Regions from separate parts of the Homo sapiens genome. Here regions 1 and 2 are each reported to be linked to region 3. Evidence: microRNA targets listed by miRTarBase, many of them from high-throughput screens and not tested one by one. Region 3 holds a microRNA gene; each other region holds the end of a gene's coding sequence.

Region 1 (5,065 bases), not on the chromosome of region 3:
ATGATTAATGAAGTATGGCACCTTACCGTGTTTACCGACCATTTGAGTATCTTTCTTTGTAAATGTTTATTTTTCTGGTGGTTATTTGTTTACTGATTTTAGGAGTCTTTATATATTTTGAATACAAGCTGTTTATTGGATATGTATATTGCCAGATTGTTGAGTATGTATTTATCTTTAACTCTGCTAGCTGCCTTCTCCTTCATGATGTCTTTTGATGAATTAAGAGTTCTTAGTTGTTTTTTGTTTTTGTTTTTTGAGACAGTTTCGCTATCATTGCCCAGGCTGGAGTGCAATGGCATGATCTCAGCTCACCGCAACCTCCGCCTCCCAGGTTCAAGCGATTCTCCTGTCTCCTGGGTAGCTGGGATTACAGCACCACCACGCCCGGCTAATTTTTTCTATTTTTAGTAGAGACGGGGTTTCTCCATGTTGGTCAGGCTGGTCTTGAATTCCCAACCTCAGGTGATCCGCCAGCCTCGGCCTCCCAAAGTGCTGGCATTACAGGTGTGAGCCATGGCGCCTGGCCAAGGGTTCTTACTTTTAACATGATCCAATTAATCATTTTTCCCTTTATATGATTATGTTGTATTCTCTTAAAAACAAATCTTTGTCTACTCCAAAGCACAAAGATTTTTTTTCCCCCTAGAAGCTTTAACCTTTCAAATTTAGACTTGGAATCAATTTAGAATTTTGATGTATGTGTCATGTAAAAGTAAAAATACATTTTTCTATATGAATATCCAATTGACCCAGCAATATATACTGAAAAGATCCTTCTTTTCTCACTGCACTGCAGTGTCACCTCTGTGATCAATCAAGTGACCACTTATGTGCTTTTTATAGTAGTGACATGGTTTTAACTGATTATAATTTCCAGTAATGAATGGAAGACAAATGCTCAAAGTCTCAAAAAACAAAAAATGCTCAAAGCCTTAAGTCTACATAATTAAGTTACAGTTTACATGTATTCTAAGAGGGCAATGAAAACCCTATGAAAAACTTTAAAATATCCTGGTTAGGAATGAGAGGATAACAGGAAAGTTATTACTGCATATTCAATGGTGTGTTTAAGTTAGTAGGAAATTGGGTCCTTACTTTCCAAGTATGGGAGGCAAGATTTAAGACAAAAAAATATAAAGGAACTGTGTACAAAATCGTGTGGTGGAGACCAAGTACTATATAAATTAAGGAAAAGACCAGTGAGGGATGAAGAGCCAGGAAAGGTTTCATAGAGGAAGTGTGACTCAAATCCTTGAATTGATTTAGGCCTGATTAGGTCTCTCTTAATGCAAAATATTAGAGCCTTCATTCTTTTCTATAGCTCCTTAATACATTAAATAGATTAGCAAATCTTACTCTTATTTCCTTAGATGCCTCTAATCCACCAACTATTACTGAGTTTTAGGACCGACCAGAGGTTCTAACCCTGAATGCACACTGAAACACCTGGGAAACCCTTAAAAAGTACTTAGGTCCAAACCTCATCAGACTAATGATATCAATATGTGGGTGTGAGGCCAACTCATCAGTACTAAATGCCCTCAGGGGATCTAAATGTACAGTTAAAGTTGAGGACTTTGAATCAGTGGTTCTCAACCCCAGTGATAAAGTTGTCAGATAAAATTCAGAACACCTGGTTAAATTTGACTTCTGATAAGTATTTTGTCCCATAGGAGAAATATAGCAATAACGGAAGACATTTTTGTCATAACCATGGCTTGCTGTTGGTATCTAATAAGCAGAAACTAGGGAATGCTGCTAAACTTCCTACAATGTCTAGGAGAGCCCACACAACAAAGACTGGTTCAAGACGTCAATAGTGCAGAAGTGGATAAACCCTCCTTGTGACAACAGTCACAAGGAGAATATAGAGTTGGAACTAAAAAGAGAGTTTTGTTCAAATGTAAGGACTAGGTTGATATTACAAGTAACAGAAGCCCAAGAAAGACATGAAGGTTTTAAACTTGAAGCTAGAGAACTATTGTTTGAAGTCTAGCATTCTATAATTGAATTTTTAGATACATGTTTCAGTAAATTTTCAAAGAAACTAAAAGCACATAGCGTTCAATGTAATGAATTCCTAAGTTTATGAAGTGGCAGCATTATCAGTTAACCCAAAAGTTCTTTCACTTTAAATTCTGCAACTCTTTGATATTTTTAATCAGACACTTAATAGACTTCTTGATTATGACCATGAAGTGAATATAGAAAAGAAATATATATAACTAATGGACTCTTGGCCAAGTCCCAGTGCTGGGTCTTAACACTAGCTGTGTGACCTGATGCAAATGCTCCTGTTTCCCATTTTGTCTACCATAAAATGAGGAATGTGGATGACATGATCTGAAAGATCTCTTTCAGCATTTAATTTCTATGTGCTTGATAAATTTTCATCTATGTAACCAGCATCCAAGAACAAAAATTCCTAAGTTCTTGTGAAAACATAACTTTAACAAATAAACTTTTATTCAGTGACAGATCTAATAGTAATTTCAATGGCTCAGTCTTATTTTTTTAAAAGGTAGCAAATTTATGTTTAAGATATATAATTTTACAAATCCTTTCTTGTCCACAAGGTCCTGATCAAGTGAACAGTTACCTGAGGTGTTTTTTTCTGTGGTACATAATAGTCAACCACTTTATATTATTATCATTCAGTAAGAGTTCCTTGAGTTATATTTCTAAAACCTGAATCTTGCCATAATACTTCAGAAAAAAAAGTTTTTAATTAACAGTTACTGCTGATCATATTTGTTTCTGGAAATCCTGTTAAAAAGCAAGTTGATAAAGAGTCTCGTCACCATGTACCCTATCTCAGTACAACAGAATGCACAGACTTAGTCACCTATAGGGAATAAGTATCATTTTCGATCAGTAAGTGACACTTCCTAATTGTTAAAGCAAATGTTGAAATTTCAAGGGAACTTGCCTTAAAGAATGGTGCAAGGTAGGAAATGGCTGAATAAGCAAAATACACATTAGAAATAATGAGAGTGGTGCAAGGTACTTGACCAAATTCTGTATTGTGTAACGCTGTCCTCTGTACTGTGGGACGTTCAGCACTAACCCTGTCCTCTACCTACTAAGTTCTGTAGCACAACTCCCCCATGTCCCTCCAAATTATGAAAATAAAAAATGTCTCCAGACATTGCTAAATTTCCCTTGAGGGGCAAAGCTGCCCCAATTCAGAAGCAATGAGAAGGCAAAAACTAGGCAAACAAATTTGATACCATATACGATAACAGGAATTAATTTCACAATGTTGAGTAAAAGCAGCCAGACACTGAAGCGAACACATTATACAGTTTCATATATATATGTAAAATGTGTGTGTGTATATATACATGTGTATGTGTGTCTACGTATATATAAAGCGTCAAAACAGGCAAAACCAACCTATACTGTACAAGGAAACCTGGACAGTGGTTACTCACGGAAAGGGCAAGGGCTGGGGAGCATGTAGTACCTAGAAGGGAGCAGGATGAGTGTGTTTGAGTATTCTGTGTTTTGATCTGGGTGCTGGTTACACACATAAAAATTTATTGAGCACATATGATGTGCATATATATATATATATATACACTTCAATAAATGTTCTTCTAAATGCTGTGGCAATCACTACACTTCATCATTTCAAAATAAATGAAAACTTTCTAGTTCTAGATCGTAAGCAACACCTCTTATCAAATGACATGTTAACTAAGCTAGGGGTTTTAAAACAAGGTGTGATTAAAAAGTTATCTCCATGTAGTCCTTTTCAAAACAGGCATTTCATGCAAAGAAGAAAAAACAGAAAAAAATCTATTTCAATTCATTTTGTGGAAGTTACATTTACTCCTTAGATCTGCCTATTCCTATTTGCAAAAGCTTCAAAAATGAAAGATGAAGTTTATGATGCTGTAAAAACAAGCTCTGTCTCAAATGAGGCACCTCTGTAAAGTACTGCAGTTTCCACCTATTGCTAAAATTGAAAAATAAATTTGTCAGTTAAGGCATAGTTCTATTTGTCTGTCTCAACTCAGGAGTTAAGAGAGAATTACCTTTTTAGTAGGGATAAGGACAAGACTCATATGCGTTTAAAGATGTATTATCCTTCTTCTTCTTTTCCTGAACATAAATTATTTCAAAGTAATACTCAGACTGGTACCCCAACACTTAATAGACAATAAAGATAAAAGAAAATTTGAAAAAGTCTACAATGAATCCAAAATTCTCAATTGCATTAAAAAGAATTTTAAAAAGATTAATATAGAAACTTAAGAATCAATAATGGTATTTAAAAAATACTGTAATGAAAACACACATTATTGTAACCAAATGTGTGATTTATTTTGGGAAGAAAATAATTAAAACTGAGGCCTTTTTCCAATAAAGAGGAGAAATAACAATAGCAGATCATACCCTGGTTACAAGCTAATTACCACATCCTATACAATGTGGATGTGTTCAACGTGTATTCAATGATATGAATAAATGAACATTTGCAATTTTAAAATCCCAAATCACTTGCCAATGTTGTAAATTCATAAATGCTGAAATAAATACTTAGAAATAAATATATTTTAAAAACTTTAGTCTGACAGTGTTTATAGATCAACCCAAATATTACATACAAATAGTACAGCAAATGAATGGATATTTCTGCTAATTTCCACTTAATTTCTTCATAATATGGCTGTCTGGTGTTGCATTAGTGAAGATACTCCCTACAACTACATGGGTACCCCAGAGACTATGACGAATCACTTTACAGCATCCAAGGTCATCAACAGAGAATCCTAAATGTCGGTAGCGTTCATCAGTTTCAAAAAGAGTGTTGTTTGTATATGGTCCAAAAAACTGAGGAAATAAAAACGAAATATTCTCATTAGTAAGAAAGACATTTTAGTAATAATTTTTAGGTAAACATGAACACCTATCTACTTTAATACTCCAAATATTTAAAAAACTAAATAAGTAAAAAGTCACATGCAACACTTAAACCGCCTTAATATCCCTTTCCTCCAATTCCTATGCATTCTGGAAATCTGAAATGATCTAGCAAATTACATGTTACCTAGAA
Region 2 (5,065 bases), not on the chromosome of region 3:
AAAACACCTATTTCTATCAATCTGTACTTACATTTCAACATGGATTTTAGAGAAGGGAAATACATCTTACAGTGTGCCTTGAATTCACACAAAAGCATGTACACATACACAATGTATCTTTCAACATAACTACACATACACAGTCCATTAAAAAGATACTGACAGATTTATAAAATGTATTGGCCTTGCACTGTTAATCTCAATAATACATTTTCACTTAATTTATTTTTGCACTGCATGGTAGCTCTGGCCACCATTAAGGATCTGTCAGCATTTCCATCATAACTCTATTTTCAGAATACTGGAGTACAAGTGCCAAAATACACATTTACAGTTTACAGACAGCGGTGGCTTTGTCTTCCTTTTAAATTGACTTCTTCACTGCATCTTTACAAGGAATATTCAGGGATGGCAGTGCCTACATAATAAAAAGCATCATATAAAACAAAAGAGGTCAAAAGATGTAGACTTCCAGCCCGAGACTAAACTAAACCATGGGAATTGACTCCTTAACATTCACTGCAGCTGTAGTAGTCTCTACATCATATTCATAGTTTTAGAGCAACAGTCCAAAGCAAGATTACTCTGATAATATATATGTGTATATATATATATATATGTATATATAAATATAGGAGCAGTACATAGCATTAGTACACAAAACGCTAAAGGTGGAAAGTAATAAGCATACAGCAAATTACTCCAGAGCAGATCACTTCTACAGTGACAAAAATAAACACGAGCCACCAAACAGACACTGACTGTTTCCAACACTGGACATCCAACTCCATTAAGTAGGCAAAGTTAAAACATTTAAGAGTAAAGTCTCTCTTAAACAAATATATTAACTACATTTGTGGAGCTTGAAGTAGTAAATAGGATGTTATACAGGCCTAAAATTGTTTCTTCTCTTTTTTTTAAAGATTAGGTGGGCCTGTAAAAGATATCGGCAAAAAAAAAAAAAAAAAAAAAAAAAAAAAAATTTTGAAGAAACTTTTTAGTGGAAGAAAACCAATATTACTGGCTCTTTCCACCAAAAGGTGAATATTCAGATTAGAGAGATTTAAATTGCCTAGCAATTTAAAATGTTTAAGACACTCTCTTAAGAGATATTTTTTTCCTGATCTGAAGTTTTTATAGTCTTCCCTACCTTGACACTATATGAACGCATTTATAGACATACCTATTTGTCTGTATTAAGATTGAGAGAGAGGCAGATTATGCTGAGGATGGTGAAGTAACTGCAAAATATTGTTGCTAACATGACTGTTACATCCGAAGACAGAAGGAACCCCAAACCCACCAACACACATCCTGCTGCAAAACCAGAGGCAAAAGCTAAGTTATAAGGGGGCAGAGGGGCAGGAGCTCTGTACATATATTTTTTCCCCTGGCTGATCACTGAGGAAAAATTTTTTAAAAGTTTATCATACTCTGGCTGGTTCAAACCATATTCACATTTACCCAATTAATTTTATTTGAAACATCTATTTATATATGTACACCAAAGAAATTAAACCCTGCCATTTTCCCTTTGTGCTTAAGAAACCAGAGCCACTGTTAGGGTACTCACATGTCAAAGATATTCTTAATAGGCTTCAAAGTTGGGTGTATATAAATGTGACAGAACTGAAGGGGTTACTTTAAGAGAGGTATTAAAACTACTTGAAATTAATTCAAAGGGATCTTTTTATTTCTGTATTTAAAAATTAGATGAGAGCAAGATTACCACTTCAAAAAAAATAACGTAACTCTCAGTCTTAATTTTGTGAAAAACTTACTTTGCTATCTTGATGAGTAGAAGATGGATAAGTTTTTCTGAACTTTATCAATTTACAAACTTACATTTTAGGATATTCTGAAGAAATTAACTTTATTACCTAATTTTCAAGTCTAAAGTTTATCATATAATAGCTGTCCTTCTTATCATTATTTTTGTTTGGTCATTTCTTATCTTACCTAGCTTCTTGGTTAGTAACTTAAAGGAAAAAATTTTTACATTGGCAAATCATATTTTTTGCCCCACAATTTAGTTACAGAAATAAAAATGGCCCAAACTACATATATACGTTTCTAGTTAAACTACACAGATATATTAAATCACATAAACTTCTGGCTTGATCAGAATATGTGTTAGCAGTTAGAAATTTTAAAATATTTTAAAAATTTGCAACATTTCCATATAAACATTACCCTCCCCTTCCAGCTATAAAGTTAAAAACAAAACGCAACTGAAACCACACAATTCATCAATCACCTAATGTCCAAAATGACTCAAAGTTTCTCTGCACATCAAGAAGTGGACAATACAACAAATGCTTCAAGTACGGTTCATGCCAATCGTCATTAAGAATCATAACATTATTGAGAAAGTACACTTGTCCTCTGGGAGGACGCTTCAGAGAAATAATTTACAAGGAGCATGGCTGTATTATAATTTTTTAAAGGAAAAATAGTTTCTTTGGATAGAAAGAAACAGTGTAAAAAATCCCCTTTTTAAAATGCAGAAATAACTCCATTATCAATCTGCATTTATATAACTGCCCAAAAGAATGGGTCTGGAAAGACCATTTTCTGTACAGACACTAGTTAATCTCTGTATGAAAAGACAGCATCTGGCATGGGAACAAACAAGGGAGATACTGGTCTATTAGCACACATAGAGACTTTCTTAAGGCTGATCCAGTGACGAACCTTTGGATCCAGAAGTATTTCTTCATTTCTCTTCTTTTCGGCTGAATTTCTAGTAAAAACTTTGAAGATGAGCTGTTCTTACTTTTCATTTCTCCACTTATGGAGAAGATGGAATAATGACACCAAAAGTACTTTGGTTTTTTTCTTTTAAAAATAATTTGCTTTCTTTTGCATGCCACAGGACAGATTTCTAGTTTCAAAACAAGGGTACAACAAGAACAAAAAAATCCCCCCATCCCCAACCGTCTTTCACCAATACAAGAAATCCTTCTGGAAATATTAGCAAGCAACTAAACAGGTATTGAACCACTGAATCTACAAGTTAATACATAATCTGTTATGGCAGAATAACCAAGAATTTTTCCCCAAAGAAAGATTTTAATTTTTTCAAATATAAAAGTGTCTAAGAGAATCATATGTGAACAAACAAAAATCTCTGATTCCAGATTTTTAGGATAAAGATGAGTAACACACTGGCAGCTGAAGAAAGCTGAAACTCTGACTAATAAATAGATCCAAATTAAGAATTTCTACAACAGTTTTTTTTTTTAGAAAACAGGACCAGAATTCTTTTTTTTTAAATGATGATCCTGTGGAATGCCTTTACTTCCATATTCACCTAATATTGTAACAGTAAAACAGACACAAGAATGTTGATGACAGCTCAACAATGCTGGATTCAGGACATTTACAGGTACACTTTTGTTTAAAAGTCCTACAAGTTTATTGACTAAGGCTAGACAGCAATTCATATGATCCTATTTGGTGCATTTTCTACCATGGTCCAAGATCATTACATGGATACAGCCAAGGACTGGGCCCCAACTTTCAGGAAAAAGACCACAAAGAAGAAAATCAAGGTGGCTATTTGGTCCCCCCAGTTGATAATCTGTGTCCTGGAACTGGAAAAACAAAAGGTGGAAAATACAGACTGCAACGAGTTAAAGGACTTGGAAAAAGTTGGTGGAAAGTGGCACGGTATACGAGTAAGGTCACTGGGCTTGGGATGGCAAGGGTGCTGCATTGAAAGAGCATCCACGGGACCAAGTACTTATAATGTCTGATGGTGTCATTCCCTCAACGACTTAGAATATCTGTATGCGATAATAAATAGATCAGTTATGTAATAAGGCAGTGTGTTGAATATGCATTCGTCCTGTGGAATGAACCACCACAGAGAGATACATGATACCATACACATTCTTTGAGTTTTCTTGTGTTGTGTTTGATTTGTTTGTTTTCAAGGCTATCCAGGCTAACTCTTCCCGGGGATTTCCTTGGAGAGAAGAGTGGTCCGCTGAGGCTGGTTTGCTTTAACCTCTCCTTTATCAAGAGATGATGACTGGCTTTAAAGAAAAATAAAGCTGAAGGTTGTTTGATTTTTATTTTTTCCCTTTTGGTTGCATCATTTTGAGTGTTTTCATATAAACAACAAGAACAAAAAATCACAACCAAAAAAAAAAAAAACCAAAAAAAAAAAACACAATAGTTCTTGATGCATCCAGTTGTTATATCCTCAGGATGTTCCAGATGTTTCCAGGTAACTCTGTAGTTTACGGACTGTGGTTTTGTCCAGCGAGCAAAGATCAAAATCAAATGTTGTGTTTGTGATATGAAAGTGTCCAGTTTCTTCTATAAGGTTCACGATCTAGAGGAGTGAAGAAGAGAAAGTTTGGGCAATACGCAGCAAACATCAAAAGGCAAAGAGAGAGTAATGGAGGGGCGATCAAATATGGAATCAAGTGATAAATATTCGTATTTATAGCAACAAGGTCCCATACCATGAATAGCATTAAACTGTCTCAGTCAACTTGATAAGTCAAAGGTATATTAAGCCTTAGAAATTCCCAGTGAGAACCTGTCTTGCTTTTCATACCCTTTAAACTGATGTCTGCTTTCAAGTCATGAACAGAATATTTAACTGTGAGTGAGCAGTTAGGGGGAGATAGCATTTCAAGACTCCTTTAAAAATTAGTTACTGACTCAATAGACAGTGATTATACTTAATAGACATAAGAAAAATCCAGCCGAGAAATAACAAAACTACTTTTACTTAAGTACAAACACATACACACACACACCCCTATATAAAATCATTTTCCTTTATCATTATATAATTGTTAATAATTTGGAAAATACAGGAACTCCCAAAAAAAAAAAAAAAAAAAAAGGAAAAGAAAGAAACTGTCTACAATCCCACCCCCTTAACAGATAGTGACCAGAGGGGGCTCAAGGGAGCCTTCTAGAGTACTGGAACTGTTTTGTTGTTTGACTTGGGTGCTAGTTACATAAGATGTTGTCACTTGGTGAAAATGTATCTACCTGAATGCTTTGTTATACTTTAACATAAAAATAAAAACATATTTATTAC
Region 3 (5,075 bases):
TCCCAGAATCTGGGCAACAACTACTCTGATGAGCCCTGCATAGGACAGGAGTACCAGATCATCGCCCAGATCAATGGCAACTACGCCCGCCTGCTGGACACAGTTCCTCTGGATTATGAGTTTCTGGCCACTGAGGGCAAAAGTGTCTGTTAAAAATGCCCCATTAGGCCAGGATCTGCTGACATAATTGCCTAGTCAGTCCTTGCCTTCTGCATGGCCTTCTTCCCTGCTACCTCTCTTCCTGGATAGCCCAAAGTGTCCGCCTACCAACACTGGAGCCGCTGGGAGTCACTGGCTTTGCCCTGGAATTTGCCAGATGCATCTCAAGTAAGCCAGCTGCTGGATTTGGCTCTGGGCCCTTCTAGTATCTCTGCCGGGGGCTTCTGGTACTCCTCTCTAAATACCAGAGGGAAGATGCCCATAGCACTAGGACTTGGTCATCATGCCTACAGACACTATTCAACTTTGGCATCTTGCCACCAGAAGACCCGAGGGAGGCTCAGCTCTGCCAGCTCAGAGGACCAGCTATATCCAGGATCATTTCTCTTTCTTCAGGGCCAGACAGCTTTTAATTGAAATTGTTATTTCACAGGCCAGGGTTCAGTTCTGCTCCTCCACTATAAGTCTAATGTTCTGACTCTCTCCTGGTGCTCAATAAATATCTAATCATAACAGCAACTTCAGTTGTGTTGGTCTTCTCTCACAGTATGGTAGGACCTACTAAAAGTAATTAAAGTGAGACTAGTTAAGATGGCTGGGGCCCGAGAATATGGATGTCACTTTTGCTTTTTTGGTCTTTCCCCTTCCCACACATGCCACTCCTACTTCACTCCACTGGTAAGCCCAGCTGGAGAACAGTGAATACTTGATTAAACAGTACTCCCCTGGCTTCCATTACCCAACCTGTCATCCTGCCAGGTCCACCTGGATGATTCTTCCCACATCAACTGGAAGCCTAAGAAAGAAAAAGTCTTTCTGTCTCAGGGGACTATGAATGCAGAGATGAAGGGATTTCCTTCTTTCCCAAGTATGGATGCACCACTCCCAAGGATTTCCACTTCTTTGAATCTTAAAATCCTGGGGGTAGTTGCATTTTTCATATGTTATCTTCTTTAGCTCCTGGCCCCTTCTTACAATGTGAGGTGGGGATAAGAGCAAGAAAGCCTTTCTCTTCAAGGAGGAATAGGGCTAGGAGTGTGTGTGTGTGTGTGTGTGTGTGTGTGCGCACGACAGAGAGAGAGAGAGAGAGTTTGTATGTGTACATAAGTTCCTACACCTTTAAATCAGGCTCCGCTGTGAGGACCTGTTCTGACCCAGGTTGACACAGTTTTATTTTCTCGATGTAATTAATGTCAAATCAACTTCTGCACTCTTCAAGGAAGCTGCCATGTTGCTATTTCTGGTTCCCATGCAGCCCCTAGGTCAGCTCATGTTTCACAAGGAGCTGCTCCCCTTTTGCAATGATTACAGAAGTCAAAATAGTACACGAAAGTAACAAAAAGGAGTCCTCCACTTCACCGCCACCCAACATGCCAAATCCAGGGTAAAAACCTCAACATTTTCCTCATTCCAGACGCTAGCTTCTCCTAGTTGGCGAAAGGAACAACTCTTTCTTCCCCATCGTGCTTACAAGCCTCTGAAATAGGGCCTCCACCCAGTGGAAACCCCAACTTCCTTCATGAAACAACTCTGCGTCCAGACCCTACAGCCTTTGAAAATACCCATTATCTTTCCCTACTACCCATAGAAAAAGTGAGTTTTAGGTGTTGGGAAGAGAATCCTGGTTGCATTTTCACTGGTAAAAGGAGCCACACATCCAGGGACGCTGCTCCATAAGAGCTAAGGACTCCCAGGGATATCTCAAAGTCATTAATCTTAAAGAGCCTAGAGATCACTGATTCTAATACTTCCGTATTGGAGATGAGAAAATGAAGCTCAGAGAGGAACAAAAACACAGTTAGTGGTAGAAAGGAGACCAAAAGTCAGGCCTGTGAACTCCTCAGTGCATATATTTATTGCAGCATCTGGATCTTCTTTGCCTCAAAACTTAGAATATTTTTAAATACAGGACAAGCTAGTAAAGAATTCCTATGTAATAAAGATAGTCCACAGCTGCAGAGGCTAAACAAAAATGAGATGATAACATGTGACCTTTCTTAGGCAGATGGCTGGTTGGGGAAAGTAGATGAATGAAAAGAGGAAAAGATCTCCAGAAGAGCGGGAAGGTATAAAGTTTCTCTAGGACAGTTTCCCAAATCGTGCTTCATTGGACATTGACACAGGAGAAGGCTGTGGGGGAAAAGAAAATTCATGATCAGATAGGTATGGCAAATGCCTCATTCTATGGTTTCCTCTTTGAGATTCTCAATGCAACATTAGACTATTAAAGGCTCTGAAAAATCCTACAAGAAAACACCTGTATAACCTTGTGTGACCAAGTAATACCAAAATTTATTTGCCCTCTGAGTCTGCTATTTTGCCCTCTTCCTCCAGCCCTTGACACTGTTTCTCAGGAAGAAAACATCCTTCATGCTGGCTACTACCTCATATGCTCTATAACATTGTGGTGTTCACAGTTTGAATTTTTCAAAATCCAGGGTAGAATTTGGCCCCCAAACCTAAAGCTAGTGGACAAGAGGAAAGTCAATCAATCAGTAAATATTTATTATTTTCTGTAACTAAAGTACTGGGCTGTGGTAGGGGAGACAACAATCAAAGACATAGCCTTGTCTTCCAGAAGCTCACAATCTAGTTGGGAATTCAAGAATACCCCTTAGAAAAGTTCATTGACAATTTACGAGGTGCTATTAGACAGTAGGAGAGAAAGGCATACATACCAGGGCCCAGGGAAGAAGAGCTTTGTGAATGAAGAAGGAAAAAGTGTAAGTTGACTTTCAAAAGTCTCTGGAAACACTGGACTTTAGCTGGTCCAGGAAATATAGGGAAGAATTGGATAGGCAGGAATAAATGGAGAAAGTGTTCCTACAGGAAAAGACATGTGGAAAAGGGGAGAGGTAGGCAAGATCAAGGAGTGTTTAGAAGGCAAGACTGAGTATCAAGAAAGTGAATTTCTAAGCCCTGCTTACTCAGATAAGCCATTAGGCTTGTGTGAGAATGCTGATGTCCTAGATAGGAGACTCTGGGAGGGGAATATGAAGGAAGAAAATAATAATGAATCAAAGAGCACTTCCATTCCTGGACACTTTATACATTTTCAAGACTATTGCGCCCCCATCAGCACTCTCATGGTGTGTGTAGACACAGCCCAGGGCTGTATTTCCCTGAGATGCCACACTTTTCCCCTGGTGTCCTCAGATATAATGCCTCAGTTCCTGCAAAGTCACATAAAATAACTTGTGAGAACTTGGTGCTTGGTGAGCATCCTTGTATCCAGCTGGCAGTCCATTCGTCATATCCCATCTGCCCTGGCCTAGAGCTGGTAAGCATGTGCCGCACTTGGGGTATTTGACAAACTGACACTCTACCACATGGAGTGTCCAACTCAGCTTGTCAAATACACGGAGCGTGGCACTGCAGGAGGCCAGGCCAAGAGCTTCTGTGGGGAAGTGAGATCTTCCTGGGAGATGTGACCCTAGAGGGAAAGAGAGAGAAAGGAATGATGAAGTCACACCCTTAGCCCCGGGGATCTTGCTCAAAGGACCAACCAAAGCACCAGAATAGGGAAGTGAGCAAAATAGGCATAGGGTTCCTAACCAGAAGAGAGATCCTGAAGATAAGCAGGTAAAGCCCGAGTGACACCCAGTGCTCAGCTGGAAGCTCATCAGGCCTGAGTCCTGTAGCTATGGCATTTCTAGGGGTCCCAAGCTTCAGTGGGTTCCTCTATGCAGCAGAGAGGGGAAAATTTGGTCATCATCCTGCCTCCCTGACTTGAGGAAAGTACCAGACCCTAGAGTCAGCATCCTTGCTCCCTCTTCTCAATTCTCCCAAGCTGTGTTTTCAGTGTTGTGGTTATGCACATAGGCTTTGAGGTTAAACATGAGCTTAAATCCTAGTTCTTCCATTAGCTAGTTAGGCAACCTTGGATACATCATTTCACCTCTCTGAGCTCAAGTTTTCTACACCCACAAAATGTATGTAAGTATAATACCTACCTCATAAGGTTATTGTGAGAATGACAGGAGATAATGCATGTAAAGCCTTTGGTTCAGTATTCAATACATAACAAATGCTCAAAAAGTAGTGGTTGTGTGACCAAAATGAAAGAAAGAGCTATTGGCAATTGATTTAGCAGGATCTGGACAGGTGTGACATTGATTTCTTGTGGTCTCAGCCTTGCCTAACATGATCCTCTTGTCCCATAGGGACTCAAGAATGGCAGCTATTAAAGTGCCCTTAAAGATCATCTAGTCTCACTCACTTAGGTTATAAATGAGATAACAAAGGCTCCTGTTGGGGAGGAGACTTGTAAAGTTTATACAATAAATTTTTTACAGTTCAGCAGTATGCCTTATACAGCTTTCCTCATTGGTTATTTTGCCTCCCTTCTCTGTATATCCCTCTGGGAAAGGGAAGACACATCAACAAAGAGGGCAAAAACAGGCAATAGCTTTGTAATGCAACATTTGGGATCACTGAACCCACAAGCCACCAGGGCAATAAGGAAGCTGCCAGGAGCAGGGTCAGGTCTGAAACTTCTGGGAGAATTCCCTTGGCAACAATCAGATCCTGTTGCTAAAAATCCCAGGTTGCTGGTGTCAAATTACTGCCCTTACCAGCTGTGGCAGTTGATCTGTGAGCAGGTAGCTGGTCTACATTAAATATTGTCATGAAAAGTGGCAAACATCACAAGGTTACCAGAAATGGTAAACTGCCCCCATGAGGCCGGAAAGCCCTGTCCCAGCCCAGGTAAGACAGAGGGATTCAGCCTTGTCTTTCAGCAAGAAAACAATCAGTGTCTTTTCTTGCTCTATTCTTTTAATTGAATGTTAAGAAGGTAACATACTCCTTCAATTTAAGTTCTGGCAGTCATCTCAAAACTAAAGCTCTTTCACTCCCTCACTTCCTTTTCTACCTACCCAATTCAGCCTAATCCACCCAGCAGCAAAAGCAGCAGT

The links. Region 3 holds the annotated microRNA hsa-miR-223-5p (CGUGUAUUUGACAAGCUGAGUU, at 3,500-3,521, opposite strand). A microRNA usually pairs through its seed, bases 2 to 8, with sites in the 3' UTR of a target mRNA and lowers its output. Matches are read on the target gene's strand: a 7mer-m8 pairs with bases 2 to 8, a 7mer-A1 pairs with bases 2 to 7 and ends in A, and an 8mer does both.
Region 1: the mRNA of MMADHC is a reported target of hsa-miR-223-5p. Seed matches in the 3' UTR shown: 7mer-m8 at 4,455-4,461.
Region 2: the mRNA of MLLT3 is a reported target of hsa-miR-223-5p. Seed matches in the 3' UTR shown: 7mer-A1 at 599-605.

What each region holds. Positions count from the first base shown.
Region 1 is chr2:149,565,327-149,570,391 of GRCh38, forward strand. It overlaps MMADHC (metabolism of cobalamin associated D), which reads right to left. Exons shown (of 8, transcript NM_015702.3): 8 at 4,311-4,842. The coding sequence ends at 4,648. Among named protein-coding and RNA genes, the nearest start is that of MMADHC-DT, 19 kb to the right of the region's middle.
Region 2 is chr9:20,342,233-20,347,297 of GRCh38, forward strand. It overlaps MLLT3 (MLLT3 super elongation complex subunit), which reads right to left. Exons shown (of 11, transcript NM_004529.4): 11 at 1-4,342. The coding sequence ends at 4,211. LOC124902129 (a long non-coding RNA gene) reads left to right here and starts at 4,887. Exons shown (of 4, transcript XR_007061434.1): 1 at 4,887-5,065.
Region 3 is chrX:66,017,341-66,022,415 of GRCh38, reverse strand. It overlaps MIR223 (microRNA 223), which reads right to left and starts at 3,546; the gene lies at 3,437-3,546. It overlaps VSIG4 (V-set and immunoglobulin domain containing 4), which reads left to right. Exons shown (of 8, transcript NM_007268.3): 8 at 1-678. The coding sequence ends at 153. MIR223HG (MIR223 host gene) reads right to left here. Exons shown (of 3, transcript NR_170299.1): 3 at 1,990-3,592.